Homo sapiens: one gene and its partners. The protein of the gene in region 2 interacts with the protein of the main gene of each other region in a pairwise test. Each region holds a gene or a part of one and is shown on either strand. Other genes may lie near its edges.

What was found.
Region 1: the proteins of EXOC1 (region 2) and GOLGA4 interact in binary tests that used the Homo sapiens proteins (3 or more experiments, as listed by UniProt).
Region 3: the proteins of EXOC1 (region 2) and CCSER2 interact in a two-hybrid assay, tested with the Homo sapiens proteins (2 studies listed by BioGRID and IntAct).
Region 4: the proteins of EXOC1 (region 2) and TRIM9 interact in a two-hybrid assay, tested with the Homo sapiens proteins (2 studies listed by BioGRID and IntAct).

What each region holds. Positions count from the first base shown.
Region 1 is NC_000003.12:37,323,246-37,330,272, reverse strand, and holds part of GOLGA4 (golgin subfamily A member 4), read right to left. Parts: intron 6,686-7,027; coding exon 2,448-6,685; intron 1,858-2,447; coding exon 1,736-1,857; intron 1,311-1,735; coding exon 1,180-1,310; intron 1-1,179. UniProt on the Homo sapiens protein: Involved in vesicular trafficking at the Golgi apparatus level. May play a role in delivery of transport vesicles containing GPI-linked proteins from the trans-Golgi network through its interaction with MACF1. Involved in endosome-to-Golgi trafficking.
Region 2 is NC_000004.12:55,856,631-55,863,657, reverse strand, and holds part of EXOC1 (exocyst complex component 1), read right to left. Parts: intron 5,345-7,027; 5' UTR 5,335-5,344; coding exon 5,211-5,334; intron 3,248-5,210; coding exon 3,117-3,247; intron 1-3,116.
Region 3 is NC_000010.11:84,373,582-84,380,608, reverse strand, and holds part of CCSER2 (serine-rich coiled-coil domain-containing protein 2), read right to left. Parts: intron 6,991-7,027; coding exon 6,794-6,990; coding exon of another isoform or gene 6,704-6,793; exon of another isoform or gene 6,608-6,703; intron 1-6,607. UniProt on the Homo sapiens protein: Microtubule-binding protein which might play a role in microtubule bundling.
Region 4 is NC_000014.9:51,092,089-51,099,770, forward strand, and holds the start of TRIM9 (E3 ubiquitin-protein ligase TRIM9), read right to left. Parts: upstream 3,018-7,682; 5' UTR 2,852-3,017; coding exon 2,030-2,851; intron 1-2,029. UniProt on the Homo sapiens protein: E3 ubiquitin-protein ligase which ubiquitinates itself in cooperation with an E2 enzyme UBE2D2/UBC4 and serves as a targeting signal for proteasomal degradation.

The DNA of each region.
Region 1 (7,027 bases), on a different chromosome or scaffold from region 2:
ATGTAGTTTTAGGGAAATTACTTAACTACACTGAACTGGCTTTTCCTTCTGAAAAACAAAAACAGAAAAAAAAAAAGTAGAACTAAACTAGCTTTACTGTATCTTCCAACACTCTCTAGGCATTCAAGAAATAATACTTTTTTTTTTTCATTTAGCACATATATCCTCTATGGAAGTATAAGAAAATGTGAAATTATTTAAATCTTTTCATAATGACATATAAAGCTCAAGAATTATAAAAGGTGGCATTTATAGGCATGTGTTATATCTTGGAATTCTAGCCATTTCAATTACATTTAAAATAATTATTAGAATCTGTTCCCGACTCAGACTTCTGCTGACATAGTCAGCTGAGGTATGATTCTTTGATTTATGAATTCTTAATCACCAAAAGATTCTTAGCATATAGTGAAATAAGGCTTAGAGCAACTACAGAATCTGTAACCCAACCAAGAACAATTTATATTGTATTACATTTGAAAACATTTTCAAATGTTAGTCCAAAGTACTAACTAGCATTTATGATTTATCTTCATGGTGTATCTTCATGGCTTATCTTATTTTGCTAATGGCAATGCATTAGTGGCATATTCTGTGAATTGCAACATGGCATTAGTAGAGTAAGTATTTTGAAATAACCTTCCACTAAATATAAAAGATTTGGCTTATGCATTCCATTTTTTCCCAGCTTTCTTCTCTTGAGACCAATCAACCTCCACACACTGGGTAGAGATAAGAGTAAAGTTGATTGTCCCTCCCAGAAAGATTCCAGCTAAGTTAAGCAGCCACATTTAAATACACACTCACTATCCCATTACTTAGACTTCACCGAAGCACAGGGTCTTGATTCTTAGTCTGGTTCCCCTCACAGTTCAGTCAGAATCTGTGAGGCAGATGGGAAAGAATCTATTCTTCCTTTTAGTATCTACTGTTGCTTCAATACTAGCAAGGGGACTGTGCTGCCTAGTTAGCAGAATCTCATCAGGAAACTACAATCCTGGCAGAAATCAACTCAACTTTATAAATCTGCATATAACAGTACTAATTTGAATAATATTGAGTCAAAAAAAAAAACCCTTTTCGTTCAAAAAACACATTTGAAAAGGAAATCTTTGGCACTACCATGAAATCTATTACAGCTAAATTTCAAAAGTGAGAGAGAAGAAATAAGGTACAAACATCAAGGATTTCTTCATATCTTTTGGCTGTTCGTTTTAGATCATCATCTTTCTCAGCAATTTTTTTAAGTAACTGATTTGTCTCTTCTTGATGGCTTTCTAAAAGTTCAGCCTCCACCTCCTGGGCCTTATCTAATAAATAAAAATGAACACACACAAGAAAACACATTAGTCAAGAGTTAATATTTGTATCTCAATTTCAGTAACAACTCTCATTCCAATTAATTTTGATGAAATTTAATTTTATATAAGCATTTTAAGATGTTTAATGAGACATCTAGCTCAACAGTGATCAAATGTATCCTCTCCCTGAGCAAAAGTGTCTTTACAAGGTAATTAATTAGCTAATACTTTCAGATTGTTTTACCTGCTCCCTCTCTCCTTAAGGTAAGTCATTGCCAAGCAGGGCAGGTTCCCATTAGAGAATGTTATTGGGCAAGGATTATTTCTTCCCCAGTTTAATGACTTAATGCACTTACCACCACTGCAAAAATGATAAGCTTAAATTATAGCCTCTGCTGATATAATTGTTCCTTATGGAACTTAATTTTACTTACTGATAGTTTCTTTTATGGTCATTTCCAGCTCTTGTTCCTTTTGTGCCAGCTGTGTATTAAACTCCCTCATCAGCTGTTTTAATGTGGAATTGTGCTTCAGTTCAAGATCTTCCTGCTCCTGTCTGAGTAATAAAAATGTACCGTTAACTGCTGCCACACAAAGAACAAGCTGCAAGGAGCTACCTGGTCTTTAAAACAGTGCATACAGTATGAGTTCATTGTATGAAAACATTTTTGAGAGAGAGAGAGAGAGAGAGTGTGAGAGTGAGTGTGTGTGTGTGTGTGTGTGTGTGTGTGTGTGTGTCCAGGTACATATCAACTATGATTACCTCTAAGTAGTGGTCCTGGGGACCAGAGAATTTTTGTTTTCCACTTTAATTTTTTTTTCAAAACACATCTATGTTATATAATAATAATGCTAATACTAAAAACAACAAAACAAAAAGAAAATAATTACTTGGATATGTCCCTAATAACCAGAATCTTATATGCAAGAAAAGGTTTTTCTCTCCTAAATGGACATGGAATAACACTGCCACTTGCCCTAAATTGTTTTTATTTCTCCTCATATTTAACATATTGGATTTATGTTTAATATTTTGGGTTGGTGAAACTTATCCAAATAATTTAAAATAACTGTATTAGGCACAAAAAAAGGAGACTTAATTAAGAAGGACTGCCATAAAAATATTCAAGCTGAAATAAAACTTACTTGATTTTCTCTTCCCTTTCTTGATCATATTCTTTCTTTAGTATTTCCAATTCTTGCTGATGCTCCTTTCTCAACATTCGAAGGTCTTTCTGCAATCTAACAATCTCCTTGCCCAGTTTCTGTTTCTCCCGTTCTGCCCCGGCTAATTTAAACTCCAGATCATTGTGCTGGGCTTCCATGTTACTAAGCAATTTGGGTTGGACCAAATGTGATTTGGACTTTTCTTCAGTGTTTTCTTCCAAAAGTTCTGTGGGTTTATTTCTTCCATCCATCTGTTGTAAAGCCTGTAATTTTTCATATTTTGAGGTCAACTCTTCCATTTCAACTCTATGTACTTCTTTCTGTCTTACTAAGCAGGAATCCAGCTCTTTTATCTTTTGCTCCAAAATCTGACAGGTTAGTTCCTTCTCCTGGAGGGTTTTCTGGACGTCGTCAAACACATTTTCCAAGTTTTGCTTTGCCTGTATGTTATTTTTACCTCCTTCTTTTTCCACATGCTGGGCTACTATCAAGGAATATTTCTTGTTTTTTTCTTCAAGCTCCTCTTGAAGATGACCTATCATACTTTGATCTTCATGTTGCTTTGCCTCAGCATGTTCTAGCTTTATTAAGCGCTCCTGGTATTGGCATCGCATTTCAAAATGAGAAGAAACTGTCTCTTCTTTTTCCTGCCCTACCCTCTGCAATAGCTTTTCTTTTTCAGTTAAGTTTCTTTGTAAAACACTGATTTTTTCTTCATATGTCTTCTGCACACAGCCTTGGGAATCTGCTTCTTCTTGTTCAGTATATGCTGCCACATTTTTTGCTGATCTGGGTACAATTAATGTTTCTGACTGTGAACTTTCCACTGACTTAAGTTTTTCTTCCAAGATGTGAACTTCCCTTTCTCTTTCCTGCAATTTTGTATTTAGCTCACTCAAATGGCTTTCTGTACCTTTTTTATACTGTTCTTCTTTCTCTTCCATTTGAGATAACAACTGCTTCTTAATGGCAGCAATTTTTTGTTCAGCTTTTCTCTTCAACTCTGCTAATTTTGCAGCACTTTCTGACTCAAGCCTATCTTCCAATGCCTTTAACTCCTCCTCTTTGCTTTTCACACTTAAATTCACATGTTCTAATTCTTTCTTCTTAGTTTCAAGTTCAGCTTTCATGGAATAAACTTGGTTTTCAAGTGTTAAGATTTTTTCTTCAGCTTCTTTAACCCTGTTGTCCTTTTCTTCTCCTAACTCTTGAAAATGTTGAAGTTTCTGAACCAATTCTTTGTGTTCAATATCCTTTTGTTGATTGTAATTTTTAAGAACTTCATTTAAGGACTCTATTTCAATAGTTTTCTGGGTAATATGGTCCTCTAATTCCATAATTCTTGCTGTTTGAGACTTTAACTCTGTTTCTAAATTAGACTCCTTTTTCTCCATCTTGCTCTTGTCGTCTTCCATTTCACCCTTTAAACAATCAAATCTTTTATTTTGCTGATCAAGCTCTTCCTTCAATAAATTTATCTGCTCATCCTTTTCATAAGCTTCCTTTGATTTTAACTCAAGCTGGATCTGCAATTCTTTAACAGTGTTTTGATGCTGTGTAAATCTTGACTGTGCTTTCTTCTTCCATTCTGAGAATTTATTGGACCAGTCATCTACCTGCTCAAGAGCAGAAATTTTCTCTTTACTCAGAGTGTCAACTTTAAAAGATAAATCTTGCACCTGATCCAGCAATTCACATTTTTCTTCATCATACTGCTTTCTTAGTGATGAAATGGCTGCTTCTTTTTCGGATAGGCTGATGCTATTTTGAAGCTGAACATTCAAATCAGTTAGTTGTTTACTAAGACTGCTAATCTCAACTTTTTTTTCTTTAAGCTCTTCTTTCATCAATGTGACAGCATTGATGTTTTCAGATAACTCTTTCTTCAACTGTGTTATACAAGACTCCTTTTCAGAAGCAGCCTGTTGCTGATTGCCTCCTTCCTTCTGTAAGGCTTCTTTTTCTGTTACAAGACTTTCAATATCAGCCTTCATGCTCTTAATTTGATTTTCTTTTTCTTCTAACTGATGAGTAGCCTGTTGAAAAGAAATATTTAGTGTATTTTGCTCCTCTGTCAACTGTCTAAGTTGTGCTTCTAATTCAGAAACTGTGCAAGTTTTAATTAACAGTGCCTCCTTAACTTTAGTTGTACGGTGCTGACAATGAGAAATCCTAGAAAGAATGGCATTAGTTTTACTACTACTAATGTTGATTAGCTCATTTGTTTTAGCTTCTAATAAGGCTTCGGTTTTCTTACAGCAAATATCTAGCTGAATCGCTAGTTCCTCAGACAGTTTTTTAAATTCCAAGCTCTTGTCCTCTAGGCTTTTGTTACTTTTTTCATGTGAAGATTTCAAACTCTGGAATTCTTCATCTGTGGTTTTCAACTTGCTAGTCAACTCAGAAACCTTCCGCTTATCTTCTTCTGCCAGCATCTTCAGTTCAACTAGCTGCTCTTGAAGAAAAGTATTTTCCTTCAGAGACTTATTCAAGTCAACCTCTAGCTTTTCAAGATGAGCTTTCAGTTTAGTTTCATCTTGTGCAAGAGAATTCACATGGGCAGACTTCTGCTTTAACTGTTCCTGTAATTCATTTAATGTTGTATCCTGCTTAACACCTTCTTCCTTCAGCCATGTTATTTCCTTGTTCATCTCTTCTTTTTCACACCCAAATAGGAGGATCTTTTGTTTCAGTTCTGCTACCTCTTGTTCTTTTTCCTGTAATTGGATTTCATGTATTTCCTGAAGTTCTTCAGCTTGCTGATTAAGTTTCTTTTCCCAGATTGATATGACATCATTGAGTTCTCGTCGATGAACCTCAGTAAGACTTTCTATTTGTTCTTTTTGGTTTGTTTCCAGTCTTGACACTGCATCACTGATTCCAGCTGAGTTAGCCTGTGCCATTTCCAGCATTTTGGCATTAAACTGTTTTTCTTTCTGACTAAGCTCTAGAGCAGTATTTTCAAGCTCTTTCTTAAGTTTGGCTTCCTGATCCAGTAATTTTTTCTTTAACGTTTCTTGCATCTCCTTTGCTTTCTGCTTAACTTTTTCCATCTTTTTTTCTTGGTTTTTAAATTTGGTTTCATATTCCTCATTCAAAATATGAATACTGTCCTCCTTGGCTGACAATTTCTGTGTGAGTATCTCAATTTCTTTCTTCTGTCCTTCTCTCATTTGTAAAATCATATTTTCCTTTTCCACCAAGATTTGCTTTGTCTGTTCCTGTTCTTTGTTACCATCTTCAAGTTTGGACTCATAGACTTGGGTTAAAGATTTTACTTTTTGCTCCATTTCACTATTTTGTTTTTCAAGTTGCTGCATTAAGTCCTGCACCTGGATTTTGTGAGCATCTAACTCAGTACAAACATCTTTCTTTTGTGCTTCAACTTCAGCAACCTGTTTGGTAAGAAGAATTCTTTCTGTTTCCAAATCCAACAACTTCTGCTGCAATTGGGCCAACTGTTCCTCATATGCTTTTGTCTGCTCATGTGTGGCACTCTGGTAAGACTGAAAAACGTCCAGCTTAGCAGATGCCTGCTGGAGTTCCCCTTCAGACCTTTTAATATCTGCCTCTAAATTTTCTACATGAGCCTGATGCTCTTTCAAATGCTTGTCCCTTTCCTTCAAGAGAAGCTCAAGTTGATTAATTTGATCTTTTAATGCCTTCTCAGTCCTCTGGATAGATACCTCGTGTTCTTTAATGATACTGTCAACTTGCTGCTGGTGATGATTTTTCTGTTCATCCATCTTGGCCTCTAATTCCTGCTTCATTTTATCTGTTTGATCTTTCAGAACAGAAAGTTCCTCTTCTAGTTTGTGACGGGCTTTTAATACTTCTGACAGTTCAGAAGATAATGATTCTAGTTCTGTTTGCTTCACATCAAGCTTTTCTAAAGTCTTTTCATTCATTTCTTCTATGTGGGCCTGGAAGATAATCTCTTTGTCTTTCAACAATGTTTCTTTTTCTTGTTCACACTTTTCCCTAAGTTTTTCCATTTCAGTCTGATATTGTTGCTTTAAGACTTGGAGTTTTTCAGTCCAAAGGGCATCCTGCTGATGCTTAAGGCTTTCCAATTCTGTCTTGTGTTTTTCAACCATGACTGTAATCTCCTTATTGTGCTTATTTTTTTCAGCTTCCAGATGAACAGCCAAATCTTTTGACTGATTTTTGTTTTCTTGTAAGCTTTTTTCCAAAGAACTTTCCAATTCAAGAATTCTCTGTTAATTAAAAACAGATGCATTTTTATTAAAGTACGTACTTGTCTACTAACAATGATACACAGACATGATGTCTACCACCTACCTGAAGATCAAAATTATCATACCAAACACTAGAAAAGACAAAGAATCTATGCTCAATTACTAAAGGAATCATATAACAAAGAAAAGATTATGGCAAGGCACAGTCCAACAGTTTGGGAGGCCGAGGTGAGCAGATCACTTGAAGCCGGGAGTTTGAGACCCAGCCTGACCAACATGGCAAAGCCCTGTCTCTACCAAAACATACAAAAATTAGCCGGGCATGGTAGCATGCGGCTGTAGTCCCAGCTACTCGGGAGG
Region 2 (7,027 bases):
TTGAAAGCTAAAAGTGCTGCTAGGTCTCAAAGTTCTTTATTTTTTTGAGACAGGGTCTCACTTTGTTGCCAAGGCTACAATGCAGTGGTGCAATCATGGTTCACTGCAGCCTCCACCTCCTGGGCTCAGGCAATCCTCCCAACCTCAGCCTCCTGAGTAGCTGGGGACACGGACACATACCAGCATGCCTAATTTTTAAAATGTTCTTGTAGAGACAAGATCTCCCCATGTTATCCAGTTGATCCTCCTGCTTCGGCCTCCCAAAGTGCTGGAATTACAGGCATGAGCCCTGTTCCTGGCCTAACGTTCTTTCATGTGATAAAGAAGCTCAACCAATCTGAGAGAATTACACTATAGTTTCTTCAAGTCTCTTAAGCCACATTATAGCAATAATCCACATCAGGCTAATATTTCTCCCTTGAATGAATAGAACTACTTGACTATTATATAAAAAAACAGGCTGGGCTTGGTAGCTCACGCCTGTAATCCTAGCACTTTGGGAGGCCGAGGTGGGTAGATTGCTTGAACCCAGGAATTTGAGACTGGCCTGGGCAACATGGCAAAACACTTCTCTACAAAAAACACAAAAATTAGCCGGGTGTAGTGGCATGTACGTGTAGTCCCAGCTACTCGGGAGGCTAAGGTGGGAGGATGGCTTGAGCCCGGAAGGTGGAGGCTGCAGTGAGCCAAGATTGTGCCACCGCACTCCAGCCTGGGTGACAGAGTGAGACCCTGTCTCAAAACAAACAAGCAGACAAACAAACAAACAAACTTATGGATGTATACTTCACATCCAAGGAATTAAAAAATAGGCTCAAATATTCTTAATGTTCTACAGGGTAAAAGAATAATAATATATTTGATTCATTTAAAGTGTTATTTGGGGGAAATGTAAATACATTAAAGTAAGGGAAGTTATATCAGACTTTCACTGTGAAGAACTGGAGTATCTCAGGAATCAGGACTTGACCTTTGGTACAACAATCATATTACAGCAGCATGGAACTACTAATTAGTTCAATTTATAGCTTAATAAACAGAATTGAAGCGTCAAAAATTTAAAACCTGCATATACAATGAAAAGGTAATTGCATTATTACTTACAAAAAAACACAACAAGAGTATTGGCAACCAATATGAAACTTGATGGGAAATAATCTCTTCCCTGGGAATATTTCCCATAATACCATAAAAGAAGCTGAGTGCTCCAGTGGCAACACTCACAAATCAATGTGTGATACTAAATGGCTAATGTTAAGTTATGTATAAAAATTTTATGTTTTATATCCATATATAGCATACACACACCAAGGTGCCTACATAAAATGCAAAAAAAAAAAATCCATTAAGCAAGTCTGCAAGAGGCATCAGCTGTGAGAATGCATTCAAATAAGCATTCAGCAATGTTACTGAATTATGCAAGTCAACAGGGTTACGAAGTGCAAAACTACTGAAGGGAAAAATGTTTTTTAATAAAGGTGCAGTTTTAAAAACCCTTAAAGTGTTTTGTCTTAACAGAAAACAACCAGAAAAGTTTCCACTCTTGATCCCTCCCCATGGTAATAAAAATTACTTACAGAAGTTTTTTTTTGTTTTTTTTTGTGGAGACAGAGTCTCACTCTGTTGCCCAGGCTGGAGTGCAGTGGCGCAATCTCGGCTCACTGCAACCTCTGCCTCTCAGGTTCAAGCAATTCTCTTGCCTCAGCCTCCCAAGAAGCTGGGACTACAGGCGTGTGCCGCCACGCCCAGCTAATTTTTTGTATTTTAGTAGAGACAGGGTTTCACTGTGTTACCCAGGCTGGTCTTGAACTCCTGAGCTCAGGCAATCCACCAGCCTCGGCCTCCCAAAGTGTTAGGATTACAGGCGTGAGCCACCACGCCTGGCCTAAATTATTTTTAAACATCCCATTATAATTTTCTTTCCAATCTCTAGCTTTCTAAATTTCTGTCAAATCCTGTTTCTACATTTCACATTTTTCTAAGCATTGGGTGCTCCTTAGGGATAAAACAAAGGGCCAGTAAGCCTAGAATACTTAAAGAAAAGGCATGATTTACATTTGGAAGAAATCTGAATTATACAGATATAGAGGGCTCTCCTCAAATTGTTCTTACTTCATTTTTTTTGCACCCAACTCAACTACCTGTCATTTTGTCCAGATTTTTGATCCTTGGAGGTTTGTACCAAAGTAAGGGTAAAATCAGAATTTTATTTTAACAGATTGCTTTACACAGGCAGTTTTTTTGTTTTTTGTTGTTTTTACTTTGTGCCTTTTTAGTAAATGTATGAGATTTGTAGAGTCAAAGAGCACCTGTAGTTTCACTAGTATAAGCCTTGCTATTATGTTCATCCCATCGACATACAAGTAGTTGTGGTACAAAGTATTCTCTTGTGCTATGGAGGTGTGTTAGGGCTGCAGAGAAAGATGAAGGGCAGAGTGAGAGAGGGCCAGGGGGAGGAAGCACCTAATTTAATCAAAGGAGGCCAACTTGATTGCTTTGAAAAAAGGGTATTGCTGTGAAAGCTTTGAACTGTCAGGAACATAGGTGGTCCTTTAATGTGATTATCACATTAATCACCTTTCTTGGAGTTTGAGTGTGGTTTATCTATAACGTGTAAGTTTATATCTTCATAGATCTTATTATCTACATTCCTTAAAATAAGGTATGTAACCCACTATCATTTCTTTTTTTTTTTTTTTGATCCACAAACATCAAAGCCATGGTGGCCTCAAAAGGCCAGTCTGGCTGCCCCAGCTGGTGATTCTATGTTTACTCATGAAGACTAAGGAAGGATCACTTTGGTTATATGATTTTGATTAAACAAACAAACAAACAAGCAAAAAAAACTCATGACACACCACTTTAAAATCCATACTATGTATAGATTTTATACAAATTATACTTAATCTAAACACAGAAATGTATACAGTCAAAGTAATTTTTCTCTAGTTTATGTAGCTTGTGCACAAACATAATTATAGCTTAAAAAAAGCAAAAAAATAAGAAAACAAACATATATATTAATTTGTTTTTAGATCATTTTAGAATATGTAATACCATGTTATAAAATGAAAGATGCTTTCTGAACACAGGTCAAAGAACTGAGAAAAACCTACTTTGATAGCATCTTTGGCATCTACCACAGCAAGATCTCGAAGGGCCCATGCAATCTGCCTTTTGTAGAAATCTCCCTTATCGGATTTCTTGACTTTGACCACCTTAACCTGCACAGGGCGTTCAGTTGTCACTGTTGAGTAAAACGCACACTTTTATTAGAAATATTACCCCTTTCACTCATTCTTCATTCACTCATTGCAAGTATAGCTTTCAGGTGCCTAGTAGCTGATACTAAAAGAGGTGTAATACTTTGCAACAAGTGCTATGACCGAGGAAAGCACAGAATCCTAATAGAAGCATCTAAGTCAGACTAGAAGATCAGAGGAGATTCCTTGAAAAATAAAGGAATGATATATTAATAATAAATTCAGACCAGTTTTAAAGAAAAGTATGAGGTAAAAATCTAAAGAATGATTGACATAAGTAAAGTCTGTGAGGCTTGAAAGAGCAAAATACCATTTCAAAGAGCAACAATACATTTATATATAAAGTTCTTACTATGTTGCCCAGGCTGGTCTTAATTAAACTCCTGGGCTCCAGCGATCTGCCCACCTCAGCTTCCCTAAGTGCTGGAATTACAGGCATGAGCCACTGCTCCTGGCCTAAGAATTTCTTTATAGCAATGCAAGAATGGCCTAATACAAATACATTACGATTGAGTGAGGTCATTCTAAAAAGTCAATTTATCATTTCAAAAACCAAGTACAATTATATACTACACTAACAAGGAAGAAAATTTTATGATATCAATGATATGAAAAAGCAGTTGATAAAATTCAACTCCCATTCATGATTTTTTAAAAAAGTGTAAGAAACCAGGAATAGAAGGGAACTTACTTAACACTGTAAAGTATAGCTATAAAAACCCTATACCAAATACCATGCTTGAAAATGAAGTCATTCTCCTTGAGATGGAGACTGTATTGATAGTCCTAACTAGGAAACTAAACCAACAAAAATAAAAGATATAAAAACTATAAAGGAAGGAAGAAAAATATCACTACTTTCAAAAAGTCTACATATAATTAGAATTAATAAGAAAGTTTGGCAAGATTGATAGACATCCATATAAAACACCAACAATTCATTGTAGAATTCTAACAATATATGATTTTAAAATGTATTAATGTTAATAAGCGCTTTCACGACTATCAAATAAAATCTAAGAATAAACCAATACTCAGGAGTAAATCCAAGAATATACATGACAAACCTTTAGAGAAAATGATGAAACTTATAAAGTTAAAAAACACCTAGATAAATAGAGAACTGTACCATGTTCATGGACACAAAGATTCAATACAATAAAAATGCAAGTTCTCTCCAAATTGAACTATAGGTTCAAAACAATTCCAATCAAAATCCCAACAAAGTCTGAAACTCGACAAGTTGTTTCTAAAATTTAGGTGGAATAAAGAACAAAAACAAAATAAAAATAACATATAAGATGACAACCAGAAATGCTCACACACACCATGACAGATGTCAACACAGGTGAACTAAGACTAAACTGTAAAAGGCAAAATTATAAAACTTTTGAATTTAGGAAAATATTTTTATGACTGCACAAAAGATACAGGGAAGGATCTTTTAAGACACCAAAAGGGAAAGCCATAAAGGATTAATTAATTTCATTTAGTTTAAATTATAAATTTCATTAACAGGCATCATAAAAAGTGAAAAGACAAGCCACTAACTGGGATGCATACAACCAACAAAAGGTTGATAACCAGATTATAGAAAGAACTTGTACAAATCAGTAAAAGGACAAGCAACACAACAGAAAAATGAGTAAAAGGCTTAAACAGGTAAATTTCATACACAACAGAATGAAATGACTAAGAAATTCATGAGAAGATGCTCAATCTCATCATTATAGGGAAATATAATTTAAAACCACAATGAGATACTATTTCACTGCCACCAGATTGACAACAATTAACAGCCTGTCAAAGCCAAGTGTTAACTAGGAATGTGTTGACCCAACAATTTTTCCAATTACAGAGACAATGAGGATATTCAAAACAAAGAGGAAATATCTTCTAAATAATAAAAGGATACAAAACAAGTACTCTTTCTTACTAAATACCCACCTGTGGCACATAAAAAACAGTTCTTTTTCTTTTTTCCTGCTTTGCAGACATTCACAATGCTCAGCAGGCGTTCATCATTTGGTGTAAAAATGTCTCTTTGTAATGCATGCTTGATTGCTGTCATCTTTTCTCAGCTGAAAAATGTGGAGTATAGATATTAAGCTCACCCTCAACATCATTCCATCTTATACTTCTGAATTTATGATTTGAAAATAATTTTTGGTTAACAAGCCTAGGAAAAATGATTTAATATATGAATACACCTATATCACAAAAATACAAAGCTGTAAGTTTGGAAATAAAATTAGAGAACCAGTGTTATCAAACTCTAAAATGTTTGGAAATGCTCACCAAGTATACACACACACACAAGATTTAAGAAAAAAATCTTCAACCCACTGCTCAAACTTTTAATATAGTTTTCTACATAAAGAACCCTTACAACAATAAGAAGACAAATAACCCCATTAAAAACTGAATAAAAGACCTGAACAGACATTTTTCCAAAGATATACAAATGGCCAATAAGCATATGAAAACATGCTTAACATCACTGGCCACTAGGGAAATGCAAATCAAAACCACAATGAGGTATCAACCACTTTACACCCATGAGGGTGGTTAAAATAAAAACGATAGAAAATAACAAGTGTTGGTGTAACAAGTGTTGGTGAAGATGAGAGGAAACAGAACTCTCATACATTGCTGGTGGGATTGTAAAATGGTGCAGCCACTTTGGAAAACAGCTTGGTGACTCCTCATAAAGTGAAACATGGGCTACCTTATAATCCAACAATTCCACTCCAGGAGAACTGAAAACATATGTCCACACAAAAATTTGTACATGAATGTTCATGGTAGCACTATTTGCAATAGCCAAAAAATGGAAATAACAGAAATGTCCATCAAATGATACATAAGCAAAATGTGGTATATCCATACAATGGATTATTATTCGGCTGCAAAAAAAACAAAGGGCCGGGCACGGGCGGTGGCTCACGCTTGTAATCCCAGCTCTTTGGGAGGCCGAGGCGGGCGGATCAAGAGGTCAGGAGATCGAGACCACGGTGAAACCCCGTCTCTACTAAAAATACAAAAAAATTAGCCGGGCATGGTGGTGGGTGCCTGTAGTCCCAGCTACTGGGAGAGGCTGAGGCAGGAGAATGGCATGAACTCGGGAGGCGGAGCTTGCAGTGAGCCGAGACTGCGCCACTGCACTACAGCCTGGGAGACAGAGCCAGACTCTGTCTCCAAAAAAAAAAAAAAAAAAAAAAAAAAAGAAAAAAAGGAAATGAAGTAATGAAACATGCTAAAATATTGATGAATCTTGAAAAGATTATGCTAAGTGAAAGGAGTCAGCCACAAAAGACCACGTATTGTATGATTCCATTTATATGAAATATCCAGAGTAGGAAAATCCATAGATACAGAAATATAAGTGGTTTTCGGGAGCTGGAAGGGAAGGTGGAAACGAGGATTGACTGTTAATGGGTATGGAGTTTCTTTTTTGGGGTGATGACAATGTCTTTCAACTAGATAGTAATGATGGTTATACAACCTTGTGAATATGCCAAAAATCACTCAATTATACAATTGAAAAGGGTAAATTTTATGATACATAATCTCAATAAAACTGTTATAAAAATAGGTTTCCACTTATCTCCTTTTTCTTATCTAACTCAGCATCTTTTCAAACATCAACTTAAAATAATTTTAAATCTCTATTTTATTTTTCATATACATATTTGTGTGGATATGTATTACAATTTTTCAATGCAAATGTGTAGTATTTCATACATGTGAGCTTGCCTAGGACA
Region 3 (7,027 bases), on a different chromosome or scaffold from region 2:
CTTAATCATTATGCAATAACATCTCTCTGTAAACAAAATACCTCTATGGCCTTAGGATGGGAATGGGTGTCTTACACACACACGCCATATATGAGCATGTGAAGCAAAAACAATGAAGTAAAACATTACTAGATTTAATTGTCAAAAGCAAAAACTATGAACGGTAAAAAGATACAAAAAACAAAACAGAAGCAACAGGCTCAGAGAAGATTACTGCAACACATTTAACAAGAATTAAATTCCAACCACATAAAAAACTCTTCCATATCAATAAGAAAAATGGCAAAACCCAACTGAAAAATCACTGAAGTAAAAATTTACATAAAAGGAAACAAAACTGCCAGTAAAATGTGTGAAAAAAATGACAAAATCAATAATAGTATAAATGTAAATTAAAATTATGTATCATCTCACACTCACCAGACTGATTAAAATGTTGAAGTCAGATGACGACATATGGGGTTCAGATGATAAGTGACAGAAATTCTCATCCTCTACTGGAAGGTATACACTGGTAGGACCATTTTAGGGAGAAGTTTGATAATATCATTAAAGTTGAAAATACACTATTCCTAGTTTTATATCCTAGGAACGCTATAGCTAGGTTTATATCCTAAAGAAACTGACTTATATGATCAAAGAGAATTGAATCCGAATGTTCACTGCTACACCATGTAGACATTATTATTAGCAATAAAGAATAACTGAAATGTAGATTAGCAGGGGAACAGAGAAAAATACAGGTATATTCAAATGACAGAATATTATAAAGTAATAAATATGAATTAGAACTACAATACAAATACACATATACACAAAAAACATAAAATTGAGTTAAAAAAGAAACCTGTAGAATATTACATATCACTTACCTAAGTTGTAAAATACGTACAAAATCATACTGTATATTGTTCATGGATATATAAATGCATTAAGGATAATGGCCTATACAACATGCCTTAGAATTCACAATTTTAAAACAACGCACATAAAAAGAACTAACTGCTATATTTACTACTAGGGTGTTTACTGAATGCATTCTTTCCCAAATAATAAAGGCTTCTCTTTATGAGAATTCATTCATATGCCAGAGAAGGGAGAAAGGCTAAAAATCAATTATCTAGTTTCCATGTCAAAAACTTTGGAAAAGAAAAAACAAATTAAACTAAAGAAAAGTAGAAGAAAGGAAATAAAGATATAAACCAAAATCAATAAAAACAGAAAATAAGCACAATATAGAAAAATCAGCAAAGCCCAAATTTGGTTCTTGGAAATGAAGAAAAAGAGAGGAAACACCAATAACCAGTATTAGGAATGAAAAGCAGACGTCCCTATAAGATGTTAAAAAGAGGATAATCCTAAACAACTTTCACCAACAAATGACAAGTTTAGATGAAATGGACAAATTTTCAAAAACCAACACGAATATACATACAAATTTTAATATGCCAATATCTAAAAATTAAAACTGTTATTAAAAACCTTCTCATAAAGAAAACTCCAGGTCCAGAAGGCTGAATTCTGGCAAATTCTTTTACATACCTAAGGAATAAGCACATTAGTTGTACACAAATTCTTTCAAAGGACAGAAAAATAAGAAACACTTCTCAACTCATTATAAAGCCAGCATGATCTTGATACCAAAACATGGCAAGAACAAGTAGAAAAACAAGAAAATTACAGAGTAGAACAATCTTACTCATGAACATACATGCAAAAACATAGACTATTAGCAGAGCTGGGTATAGTGGCATGCACCTGTAGTCCCAGCTACTTGGGAGACTGTGGGAGGAGGATTACTTCAGCCCAGGAGTTCAAGGCCAGACTGGACAAAAAGAGACAGACCCTATCTCTTTTCTAAAAATTAATTTTTAGGCCGGGCGCGGTGGCACATGCCTGTAATCCCACTATTTTGGGAGGCCAAGGCGGGTGGATCACCTGAGGTCAGGAGTTCGAGACCAGCCTGGCCAACATGGTGAAACCCTGTCTCTACTAAAAATACAAAATTTAGCCAGGCGTGATGGCAGGCGCCTGTAATCCCAGCTACTCGGGAGGCTGAGGCAGAAGAAACGCTTGAACCTGGGAGGCAGAGGTTGCAGTGAGCCAAGATTGCGCCATCGCACTCCAGCCTGGGTGAGAAGAGCGAGACTTCGTCTCAAAAAAAAAAAAAAAAAAATTTAATTTTAAAAAATAATTTTAAAATATAAAAATTAGAAAATCTAGTTTAACAACATTTGAAAAGATAATACATCACGACCAAGTGAATGTATTCTAAGAATGGAAAGGTAGTTTACTATTTGAAAATCAAGCCATGCAATCTACCACACTAACACAAAAAAAACTTCATTATCTCAACAGACGTAGAGAAAGCATTTGGTAAAACTTAATATTCATTCACAACAAAAATTCAGCAAACAAAATAAAAGAGAATTTCCATACTCTGATTAAACTCCCTCTCAACTCCCAAAAACTTTAATGGTGAACTATTAAGGCTTTCTCTCTGAAATTCTATCACCATTTCAATTCAACATCACGTTGGTGGTCCTAACTTGTGTAATAGGGCAAGCGCTGGGGTGGTGAGGCAACTTTTTTGCAAATGGTATGATTATAGAATGTATATACAAGTTCCAAAATCATCCAAAGGCAAATTATTATAACTAGTAGATGAATTTACAAGGTTATTAGAAAAGTCCAATATACATGATAAAAATCAGGTATATTTGTATATACAACAAAAACTCATAAAATTATAAAAATGGTACCACTTACAGTGTCAAAATCAAACATGCATAACATTTTATAGAAAAGTACAAAACATTAGCAAGAAGTATTTCTAAAGTCTGAAATTAATGGAGGACTATATCTCCATCATAAATATGTCAATTCTCTCCAAAATCATCTATAAATTCAATGCAATCCCATTCAAAATCCCTGCAGGTCCTTCCTGGAAACGGACAAGCTCATTCTAATATTTAATTGGAAATACAAAAGGTTAAGAAGTGCTACAGAAATCTTGGAAAAGAACAAAGCTGGAAGACTTACCCTACCAGGCAGCAAAATTTATTTTAAAGCTACGATAATGAAAATAACATATAACTGACAAAATAAACAGAAATATTTGTCTATGCAATGAAATATTTATATATGCAGTCACTGATTTATGACAAAGATGACCCTGAAGTACAGTGGGGGAAAGATGACTAAAATAAATTAATCGTGACATCTATCTCACACCATACAGAAAAATAATTTCCAGATGGGGACTAGAGACCTACAGGTAAAAGGTTAAAAATAAATAATGCTTTTAGAGCAAAACATTGAAACATATATTCATGATATTAAGGTGGGAAAAGACTTCACAAACAGTTTTTTAAAAAGTGGTAACGGTAAAGGGAAAACTTGTAAAACTGGACAATATCAAAATTGGTAAGTTCTATATCAACAGACACTAAGAGATTTCAAAAGCAACTCACAGTAAAGAATACACTCTACATATATAAAATGTAAATATACACATGAATACAAACATCTACATATTGATATAAAATAAATATTTATGTCAAAAAATATGAAGAATTTTTACAAATCATTAAGAAAACAAACCCAACACAAGACACTTCACAGAAGAGGATATATCCTAATGGCCCAATAAACATATGTGAAGGTGCTCTGTGAGTAGTTATCAAAAAATACAAGACAAAATCTCAATGCAATACTACTATACCCACAAAATAGCAAAAATGCAAAAAGGCAGAAAGCACCAAGAATAGACAAGAAGGTGAATTTTCCGGAATGTTCATTTACTGCCAGTGGGGAGTGTAAACAGGCACAATCACTTTGAAACACTGACAGCATCTTTATCCATCAGCATAGCCTATAACCCAGGAATCTCTCTCCTACACATTTTCCCAACAAAAATGAATAAGTGTTCACCAAAAAAACATATATCAAAATCTTCACAATCATGCAATACTCTAATAGCCAGAAACTGGAACCAACCTAAATGCCCATGAACAATAAGATAAGTTGTAGTATATTCACACAAAGGAATATGATACAAGAGTAAAGAAACTACAACTGACAAATACATAATATTAATGAAAAGAAGCTAGATATAAACCAGCACCTTTATGATTTCATTTATATAAAGTTCAAGAACAGTCAAAGCTAATTTATAGTGACCGAAACCAACAGTGATTGCAGAGTAAGAGAATGACTGACTGAAAGGAACAGAAAGGGAACACTCTGGAGCGATGGGAGTATTCTATATCTTAATATGGATGATTGTCAAACAAGCATACAAATTTATCAAAATTCTCTGGTCTGTCTGCAGAAGATTTGTGCATTTTACTGTACGTAAATCAGACCTCTGCATAATACTGGTAGCATGTAAACAAATAAATAGCCAGGATTCTAGACTGGTGTTATGAAAAGTAATCAGTCTACAAACTATTTGTTGGGATCCTTGACATGATTAGGAGATTGCATCAGAATGTATATCAACACATTGTTTCTTTCAAAAAGGAAGACTTACTACAAAAACAATGTCAGCAGAAATGAACAGTGGGTGGAACTAAACTGTGTTAGAAGTGACACAGTTGATGTACATTCTAGTGAAAGCTCCTTATCTTTACCTGGACTGGTAGAAGCAGTGTTGCAGAGACAAGAAAAGTGAGAATATGCTAAAGGTCTTGAGGGGTTAAGTAAGAGATACTACTTTGAACCACTGTAGGAAAAAAAAAAAAGAAAAAGAAACAGAAAAAAAAAGCAAGACAATTTAAATAAAAATAATAAGATGGCAGAGTAAATACAGTCCAAGTATAACAATACAAACATAAAAGGATTAAACTCACTAGTCAAAAGAAAAAGACAAACTGAAAATTTTAAAATAATAAACTATTTGCTATACATAAAAAAGGCTGATAGTAAAAGAAGAGAAAATATATAAATAAAACTGGTAAGGTATATTAATATTTGGAAAAAAAGGAGTGTGAAAACAAAAAGCATAGTTAGAGATAGAGAAGATCACTAAGTAATGATGGAAAGTCCAATTCACCAAAAAAAAAAAAAAAACAAACCAACAATTCTGAACAGGTACACGCCTAAAATTTATACAAAACAAAAAATTCACGTAACTTCAGAGCAAAAATGGTAAATCCTACATCACTGTACGAGAACTCAACACATGGTTCTCAACTTTTGCCATCAACTCTCTATTCTTTCTCAGACTTTGTCATCTTCTCCTTAGATCAGAAGAGAAAGACAGAAACACCATCTTGTTCCAAAGCACAGAATGGATGTTTTTTTCTTCCCATACCAATAGACATAAACCTACTGAACAAGGAGGAAACTCATGGATCTTAAGGACTAACAGTTAATCCAGATGCATTCTGAAATCTTTGACAGAAAGCTATTTTGTGATTAGTTACAGGAACAATGAACTGAATCAAGGTGGTTAGCCTCCAAAAACTGTCAGGTACTAAGTGGTTTATTGCTGCCATCTGCTGGACACCTTTTTCATTTGCACTTCAATCATATTTGCCTTAAAACTCCTAGTAAGACAGCATATAAGGTCTTAAACTGTTATCTTTTCTGAGCCTCCTTTATCTAATGAGATGAAGACACTGTCTCTAAATTAAATGTTTGTATGCAAGGTGTTGACAACGGTTAAAAAAAATGTTTGTGCAATTTAAGCCTCCGTTAACAATGGCTTAAGTAAAAGGTTTATAGGAGTATAGAAAATTACATTGCCTGAAATCCACTTGGAATTTAATATATCCACAGACTACCAATTTTCCCATACAACTACTGGAAAATCGTATTTTATATACTGAATAACTGCAATGAGTCACTTTAAACATACCAATTACACTTTACCCATATGGCATATTATCCACATTACTTGCCATGTTTCTTAAAATATGCACATATAAATTCATGGCAGGTCTTCTAACACTTGCCCATAGCTGATTCCCTTGCCTTCCAGGCACACACAAAGATTACACTTCCTGTCCCTTTAGTACTCAGATGGGACCACATGATTAGTTCTGGTCAACAGATCATGAACGGAAGTGCCAAGTGTTGCCTGCAGGCCAATGCAAGTAATTATATGTGTGAGACCCTCTGGCACTCTCTTCCTCTGCCATAGTGAAAAGAAGGGACCTCAAAAGATGGTCAAGCCCCAAAATCAAAGTAGTTTAGATCACTAAAGACAGCTGCCCTAGAGAGCTGTCCAGACCCACAACAAACTTTCTAAGAGTAAAATAATACACTTGTATTGTATTATCCCACTGAGAGTTGGCACTTCAATGTTACCTCAGTATAGCACAGGCCAAGGTTTCTCAACAGCAGCAGTACTGCCATCTTAGGCTAGATAATTCATTGTGGTCTCTGTCTTGTGGACTGTGGGATGTTAAACAACATCCTTGGCATCTACCCACTAGATGCCAAGAAGCACTCATCAATATGACAACCAAAACCACCTCCAGTCATTGACCTCCTCCCCCAGTCTTTGAGAACCACTGGCATAGATTAAACTACTAATATAGTATGCACATATGTATGAGGAATATATATGTAAACATGTTGAGTATATTTAAGTCAAATGTCATATATTCTCCATGCTTTATTTCATATTAGAGTCAGATATTTTATAGGCTCTTAACAAATATGAATTTCCATTTCTCAAAGTAGTAAAGTTAATTCATAAATTTTTTACAAAATCAATCATATCACAAGTCTCTCTATAGTAGGGTAAACAAAATATTCCAAGAGTATATAAATCCATACATACTATGCTGTTCATTTCAGAGGACTCATAGCTCCCAACTGGATGGACATTTCCAATGGGTTCCAAGCCTTCTTCATCCCACATGTATGTTCCATCAGAGCTATCAGATGGAGAGAGTTCAAACGAAGAACCAGCTCTGTAGTCTGTATCTGGTGAAACCAAATTATTCCCAGAAGTATGTTTTGTACATTCACTCCTGTCTTCAAGAGAAAAAAGGTTACTGATTCACAAAAATAT
Region 4 (7,682 bases), on a different chromosome or scaffold from region 2:
TGTAGGGCAATTCAACATGGACTATAATTAGCAGTTTAAAAGTGAAATCAAAATATGAATAAAAAACTAGCTGTGAACTCAAGTTTTGAAAACTTTCAAAATTAAATGTCATTTTCAAAAATTTAAATTCGACTGTTCTGAAAACAGTGGTGTGTGCCCAGTTAGGCTTCAATTTGTGCTAAATGAAATCCCCATCAGTACTAATATGATTTAATAGGTTATATGTGAGAATAGAATGACTGTAAACATGGATCACATTCAACCGGGTTAAGGAGTTGAGAAAACTTTCACTGATTGCTGAAAATTAATGACATTTTTTTCTTGCTGTAAACAAAATATCAATGTTCCAGCCTTAACTCCACAGTTGGCCACTTGCAAAAGCTACCCTTTCTAGTCTCCAAGGAATTCTGGGAGACTCTGAGCAAGGCCACAGCTGAGGCCTGGACACTATCTTCACTGCTCCATCTCATCCTTGGGTATGCAACTCAGTGATGTAAAGAAAAGCTCCTTCCAACCATCCTGAATCCCTGCCCTGCACTCCACAGCCCCAACTAAATGGATCATTTAAAAAATGAAAAGCAAATTCATGCACATCTCCTCAAGAGTTGCTCCCTTCCTTCTAAGCAGTGTGGGCATATTATAAGGATCTTCTTCCTCATGAGGCTTATTTCGTTTATGTCTGTGTGTGTACAGGGAGCAATAGATAAATACAAAAAATAACATAATTAAAATATATAGCATGCCACACAGGGATAAATACTACTGAGGAAAATAAAGCTGAGAGGGAACTAGCGGGTGTCTGGGTGGGTGGCGCTGCAAAGATGATACCTGAGCAAAGAGCTGAAGGATGCAGGTAAGTGACCCATTCGGATCTCAGGTAACTGGGGAAGAGAGCTTCAGGCTGAATGAACACCAAATGCAAAGGCCCTGGAGTAGGGAGGTGCCTGGCGTCGTTTGAGGAACAGTAAGAAGCAGTGTGGCTGGAGCAGAGGGAGTAAGTGGGAGGCAATGAGGTCGAAGGGGCCAAAATGGAAGAGGTCATGTAGGACAGGCTGAGAAGCGTGGGAAAAATTGGAGGGTTTTGAGCAGAGGAGTGGCACGACAGAATATGTTGCTAAAGCCTCTTCGTGTCTAGCCATGGTGGAAATATCATCAAAAGAGACTGGAAAGATAAATCTGGTAACAGGTGTCCCAAAGTTTGCACATATAACTACTGAAAGAGGAAAGGGCTTGAATTCCGGAGAAGTGGGTGTGTGTATAGTTGGGAGGAGAAGGTTTCCCTAGGAGATGCACCTGTCTGGCTTCCAGGCCGCGACTGCGCAAACTCCGGTCCTGACACTCTAGTCTCAGGTCCCAACTCCGGAAGGGTTCAGGCCCAAGCCTGCACGTCGCGTTGCCATGGCGACCGCTGGCTGCCCTCTCCGCTCTGTCTTTTGAGCACGTGGCACCAGGACCCCGCGTTCTCTCCAGCTCGAGAGCCAGGTCTGGCCCAGAGCCGGGCTCATCAGTATTCCGCCTGCGGCGTCTCCCCGACCCTCCGCCGTGCCTCACCAGGTCCGCCTATCCAGCAGCGACAGACTCCCGCCGTCCGCGCGACCCCACCGCCCCCATCCCAGTCCCTCCCCGAGGGTTCGCAGCCCGCCCTGCCCTCGAGCGTGCCTAGCGGCCCTGGGCACTGGCGCGGCTCTACCCAGCTATGCAGTGCTTTCCCACACACTGGCCGCGGCCACTGGCTGCAGACCCGCCGCGGAAAGGGGGCGCCCTGAGTCCCGCTCGCAGGCAGCGCGCCCCGAGAGACCCGCTCTAAGGCATCCCCGCAACAACTCTGTGGGGGCATTCAACTCCCCCGTGCGCCGGTTAAGATTCCCCCATGCCTCCTGCAATGCACCAGACCAGGGAGGTAAACATCGAAGGCACCTGCATTGCGCCCCCACTGGGATGCGCTGTGCGCAAGAGACGGGGACCGTCTGCTGCAAAACCGGATGATCGGAGACGCAGGGAGTTAGGAGTGGGTTTTCTTAGGACTCACCTTATGTAGTTTCCACATGGCCCCCAGAGCCTTGACTTCGTGGCTGGAGTGTTTGCCCTCCTCCAAGCACTGGTAGCACACGGGCATCTTGCATTGCACGCAGTACATGCTGTGGTTCTCCAGCTCGTGGTCTGTGCAGGTGGAGACCTTGCGTGGGCTCAGCCTCCGGCTCACACGACCCTGGGCCGGGGGCACCAGGCGGTGCTTGGCTAGGGGCCCCCGGGGCGGGTGGCAGCGCAGGCGGCACGGATCGCAGTAGAAGACATCGCACTGTTCGCACATGACGGTGGCTTCCTTGGGCGCCTTCTCGCAGAGCTGGCACTTGAGGGCCGCGGCTTTGCTCTGCTGGTAGCGGTCAATTACCCCTTCCAGTACGCGATTCTTGGGGAAGCCGCGGAGCCCCCGGTCATCCAGGATGAGGCTGCGGTGACACTGGGGGCAGGTGATACAGGAGTTGCGGGGCACCGGGGCCAGGGCCGGTGACAAGTGGGTGGCCGGTGGCGGCATAGCCGGGGGAAACACGCGGACGCCGTTGGGGGACTTCTGGCACGGGGTAGTGGGGGCGCTGGCGAACCCCCCGTAGGAGCCATAGCCGCTGTCCGCCTCGCTGTATAGGCTCATCTTGTCCAGGTCCAGATAGTCATAGTCGGAGACCCCGGAGCCCGCGGCCCGATGGCTCTGGGGGGATTCAGACTCTGGGGTCTGCACCAGGATGTTGCGGGCGCACGCCTGACACAAATTGTGAGAGCAGGGCAGGATGATGGGCTCCCGATAGAAGGAGCCGCACACGGGGCATTTCAACTCCTCTTCCATCTCCTCCATGGGGACCGGTCTGGGAGGAGACAGCGACGGCTGCAGCGGGTGCCTGAGCTGGCGAGGTGGCCGACGGGCCCGTCTTGTCCAGCACCCTGGCCAGCGGCGGCGGCTGTGGTGGTGGTGCCTTCCCGCGCAGCACTGGCACGGACACCCAGAGAGGCGCTAGCTCTGTGAGCCGCAGCCGCGTAGCCGCCGCGCCGCGCGCCAGCCCGGACCGCCCCTACCTGCCCTCCTAGTCCCGCCCCGGCCCATGAGCAGCGGCCCATTGGGCGGGGGGCAAGAGATCGAAGCTCTCATTGGCCACCAGACCCGTCCGTCTCCTCGTCTCCGCAGGCCACAGGGGGTTCGGTAGAGTCTGAGGATAGGGCAGTCTTCGCTCGCGGCTGCAAGATCTCTGAAGGGGGCCGGCGTGCGGAGGCTAGGGGACCGGGAAGGAGGAGTTAGGCGGGATGATTCATCCTCGCCCGGCTTACTTCCGACCTCCGGTGCAGTCTCCCAGGAGCTGGGGGCGTGAGAAACCCCTCCCCGCAGCGAGTGGGCTGCCGGAGGGGGCTGGGGCTTCTCGCCAGCGTTTGCGTTTGGCTCCCAGCTCTGAGCTCCGCGCCCACCTACCGCGGGCGAGTGCTGCGCAGCACGGAGGACGCCCCTTCTCTTCCGCTGCTGGCAGCCTTCGCAGGCGTCTCACCCGGGCCTAGGCTTCTGCACGGCAGTGGGGCTTTTCTCCTTCTCCGTGAATCCGCTGACGCCGTGCCCTGGAGCTCCCCCATCCCGGGAGTCTGACGGCGCTGGCGCAAGCCCTGGCGACACTCTTGGCTTCTTTCATCCTGCGTCCCTCGTTTCCTAAAGAGCATGTATAAAGTCGATTTCCTAGTGTCGACATGAGATTCAACTGGGTAACCGATGGAAATGGTCAGCATTAGTCAGAATCTATGACCCCTTCGTTTCATGCTTTAAATTATAGCTCGGCCCAGAGGCCTCAGTGCCGTGGTGTGAACGTGCTTCCTTCCACGGATCCTTCTTCCTCCTCGCGGCCTCCCAAAGCACCTGGCTGAGCTTTTTCGAGGCCCGCTGGGCCTTTGGTTCGGTTGAGGCAAGAACAGTTTGTCTATTTCTGAGTGCCCGTAGTTTAGTAAAGCTCTGTAAATGAATCACTGTGTGACTGCGGAGTCTCAGTGTTTCACTCCAAACAGCATTATTCAACCCCACGTGCCCTGGGCATCTGCCATAGCTTACAGCATCGTGTGCCTTTCTGTTTCTTCCAACGAGGGGCATGGTGAGGCGGTGATTCTAGTGTTAGTCCCTGTACAAGGAGGGAGGGAGGGAGGGAAGAAGGGAAAGAGGGAGAGAGGGAGGAAGGAAGGGGGGGGGAAAGGAAAGGCGGAAGGAAGGGAAGAAAGGGAGGGAGGAAGAAGAAAAGGAAAGGAAAATCTTTGAGTCAAGTGACATTCTGAGGTAGTAACATTTGAAATAGTACATAGCCGGCTTTTGCTGAATGATTCATGAAGTAAAGGACAAAAACTCTTTGCAAGTTCTAGAAATATTCCAATTTTCCACCTTCCAGACAGGAGATAACTTGATTATATGCAGCTATGTTGATAATTTAAAAGTACTTTATTGTCCAGAAAAAAAATGGACATTTTATTACACTGCCCTTGTAGAAATTGTCCAATAAACTAGGTTATCTTTTCAACATCTTTAGTTGCAGTGAGAACAGTAGTTGATCATTGTGTGGGGGAATAAAGTCCCCATTGTTATTTAAAGCCATGTTAATCATAAATGTGACGTGATTTATTTTTAAGCTGGCTTTCAACTAGTTGAGACCAGAGCATCCAAAGGTATATGCACTCTGTTTACAGACATAGATAAAATTTCTTCAGGTATGGTTGGGACATTAGCTGCACTTGCAGGATACACTTAATTTATAGGTCCCAAGAGAAATTACTAATAATTATATTCAATATAGTATTAATTGAATTGTAATGAAAGTTAATTATTGAGAAAATATTAGAAAGGAGTGTCCTTTTATGGCTTTTGTATGCATTTGACCACAAGTCACAATATCTTGGACCAGCAAGGTGAGCAGCTGTTACACTTTGTATGAGTTTGAACTCTGCTTATAATAGTATATCATCTAAGAGATCTTATTAGCAGAAAGTTTATGCTTAGTTCAAAGTAAAGAAGAATTTTAGAGGATGTCTCATGGTGTAATGCAGTGTTGGGTTCGCAAAAAGAACAACACAGGTTTATAATATAGTCAATATAGAAAGATTTGGTCTATTATGAAGTCGCTTGAGATGATTTCATTGTTAGATCTGTTTGTTTAGGAATTAGCTAAATCAGTCAATCCTAGGAGAGCTCTTAAAATGACTCATTTGTTGAGAGTTCACCCTGTTCCAAACAGGGGATTTATTTATTTGTATACATTACTTGGTTAAATCCCTGTAATTACAAGAAGAGGTAGGCACAATTATTCCCATTTTACAGATAAATAAACTGAAGATAAGCAAAGACACTTAAGTACTCAAGGTCAAATATGGTGAGGCTGGGATTGGAACCCGGACACATATAAGTTTGTTCCTTTGTTCATTCATTCATTCATTCATTCATTCAACAAGTGCTGAGTTCTACTCTCTTCAAGCTCTGAATGTGATAAGTACCCAAAATGTTCTTTGTTAACTTCTATGATATTCTGCTCACCTTCTCTGAAAGTTTACTTTTTTTTTCCTTTTTTTTTTTTGAGACTGGAGTCTTGCTGTGTTCCCCAGGCTGGAGTGCAGTGGCACAATCTTGGCCCACTGCAACCTCCACCTCCCAGGTTTAAGTGTTTCTCGTGCCTCAGCCTCCTGAGTAGTTGGGACTACAGGTGTGCACCACCATGCCTGGCTAATTTTTACATTTTTTTTTTTTAGTAGAGACAGGGTTTCACTATGTTGGCCAGACTGGTCTCAAACTCCTGACCTCAAGTGATCCACCTGCCTCAGCCTCCCGAAGTGCTGGGATTACACGCATGAGCCAGCGCTCCCAGCCAAAAGTTTACTATTTTTCTTTGAATCCATTTCTTTAAAATATTCTTGAAGGCCTTTGAAGATTTTCCCCTCATGTTGCACTGTTTGGCCATAATGTGCTTTATAGCCCCCCAATGACTTATGTTTAAAAGGGAATAAAAATTGAAATGTAATTGGTAATATTATAGAAATATTATACTATTGAGGGGATATCTTCTGTCTTCCAGCTGGTGATCAGTCCATGCCCTGAAGCACAAGGATTGATAGCCCTGTAATTTCATCATTCCTGGGATGATTGCAGATGTTCTCTTTTGTGTAAAGTGCCTAATTATCCTTTGAAACTTACTATTCACCCAAATTATGTTCTTTAGCAATGAGAGCAATTACATTTAAAGTGCAACAACAGCTTTTGCATTTTTAAAAAAAGATAAATGTTTTTCTTTTTTTGATAAATGTTTTTCAATGAAAAATTGAGTTGCTTTCCTATTTGCTTTTGACTACAATGCTTGATTATTAACAAAACAGTCTCTGTGAGTCTAAAGAATGAACACAGAGAAGAAAGGTTTTTCTTTCCACATTCTCTCCTAGAGTAGTCTATCCTTAGTTGTGGGAGGGGGGTGGAAATCAGTGAAAGGAGCTGATCTTAGGCTCTAACATTTTAAGATTATCTGACATGTATATAAAAATATTTTATTAAGGTATTTGAATAAGGGTCTTGCTGCATGTGGTTTGTAAAAGTACATCACTTGAAAAGTGATAAATGTGATGTTTCTATTCTCAATAGAAATTCTGAAGAAACTTCTTTTATGGAATAATTTACCCCATTTAGTCTACTAATATTCAATTTTATACTTATAATTTTGTACTATTCTTTAATAACATTTATTGTTGATATCCTTTGGTAATTTAAATTATTTGATTATTATAGTGAATTATGAGCTTTTTCCCATTTAGTACTACTGGAAGATGGCCATATTCAAATTCTGTAGTATTTCTTATTGTAAGTAATATATTACTGATGCTTTGGGAAGGGTAGACTGGAGAATCGGAGAAAATGAAGATTTAATGAATCCTATATGGAGGTAAGAGAGCTAGAGGATAAATCCAGAAGACCTAACTTGTGAATAATAGGAATCTCAGAATGAGGAAATAACACAGGTGGAGGGAAAACCATAGTTGGAAAACATTTCTCTGAACCAAAAAAATATATAAAATTACAGATTGAAAGGATTTTAGAATTATAGATGACATTAATGAAAAAAGACCCAGTTATATACAGACACAATTCTTAACTCAGAAGAAAAAAAAAAGATCATTTTACAAGCTCCCAGAAAGAAAGAACAACTTAATTGTAAAGAAAAAAGAATCAGATTGGCATTGGACTGCTTTCTACAACCTTGCAGGTGAAAATAATGTGAAACAAATTCTACAGCCTACTAAAACTGAAAGAAGTCACCCTGTCATAGTCCGTTTTTGCTGCTATAACAGAATACCACAGACTGGATAATTTATAAGAAACAGAAATATATTGGCTCATGGTTCTGGAGGCTGGGAAGGCCCAAATCAAGACACTGGCATCTGGTGAGGGCCTTCTTGTTGCATCATCCCATGGTGGAAGGGCAGAGAGAGGGCAAGATAGAGGGCAAGAGGGAGCTGAACTTCTCCTTTTATAAGAAACCCACTCCCGCGATAAGAAACCTATTCCCATGGTAATGGCATTAATCCATCCATGAAGGTGGTGCCCCTGTGACCTAAACACTTCTTAAAGGTCCCAACTCCTGACACCTTCTCACTGGGGATCAAGTTTCTAACACATGAACTTTCGGGGACGC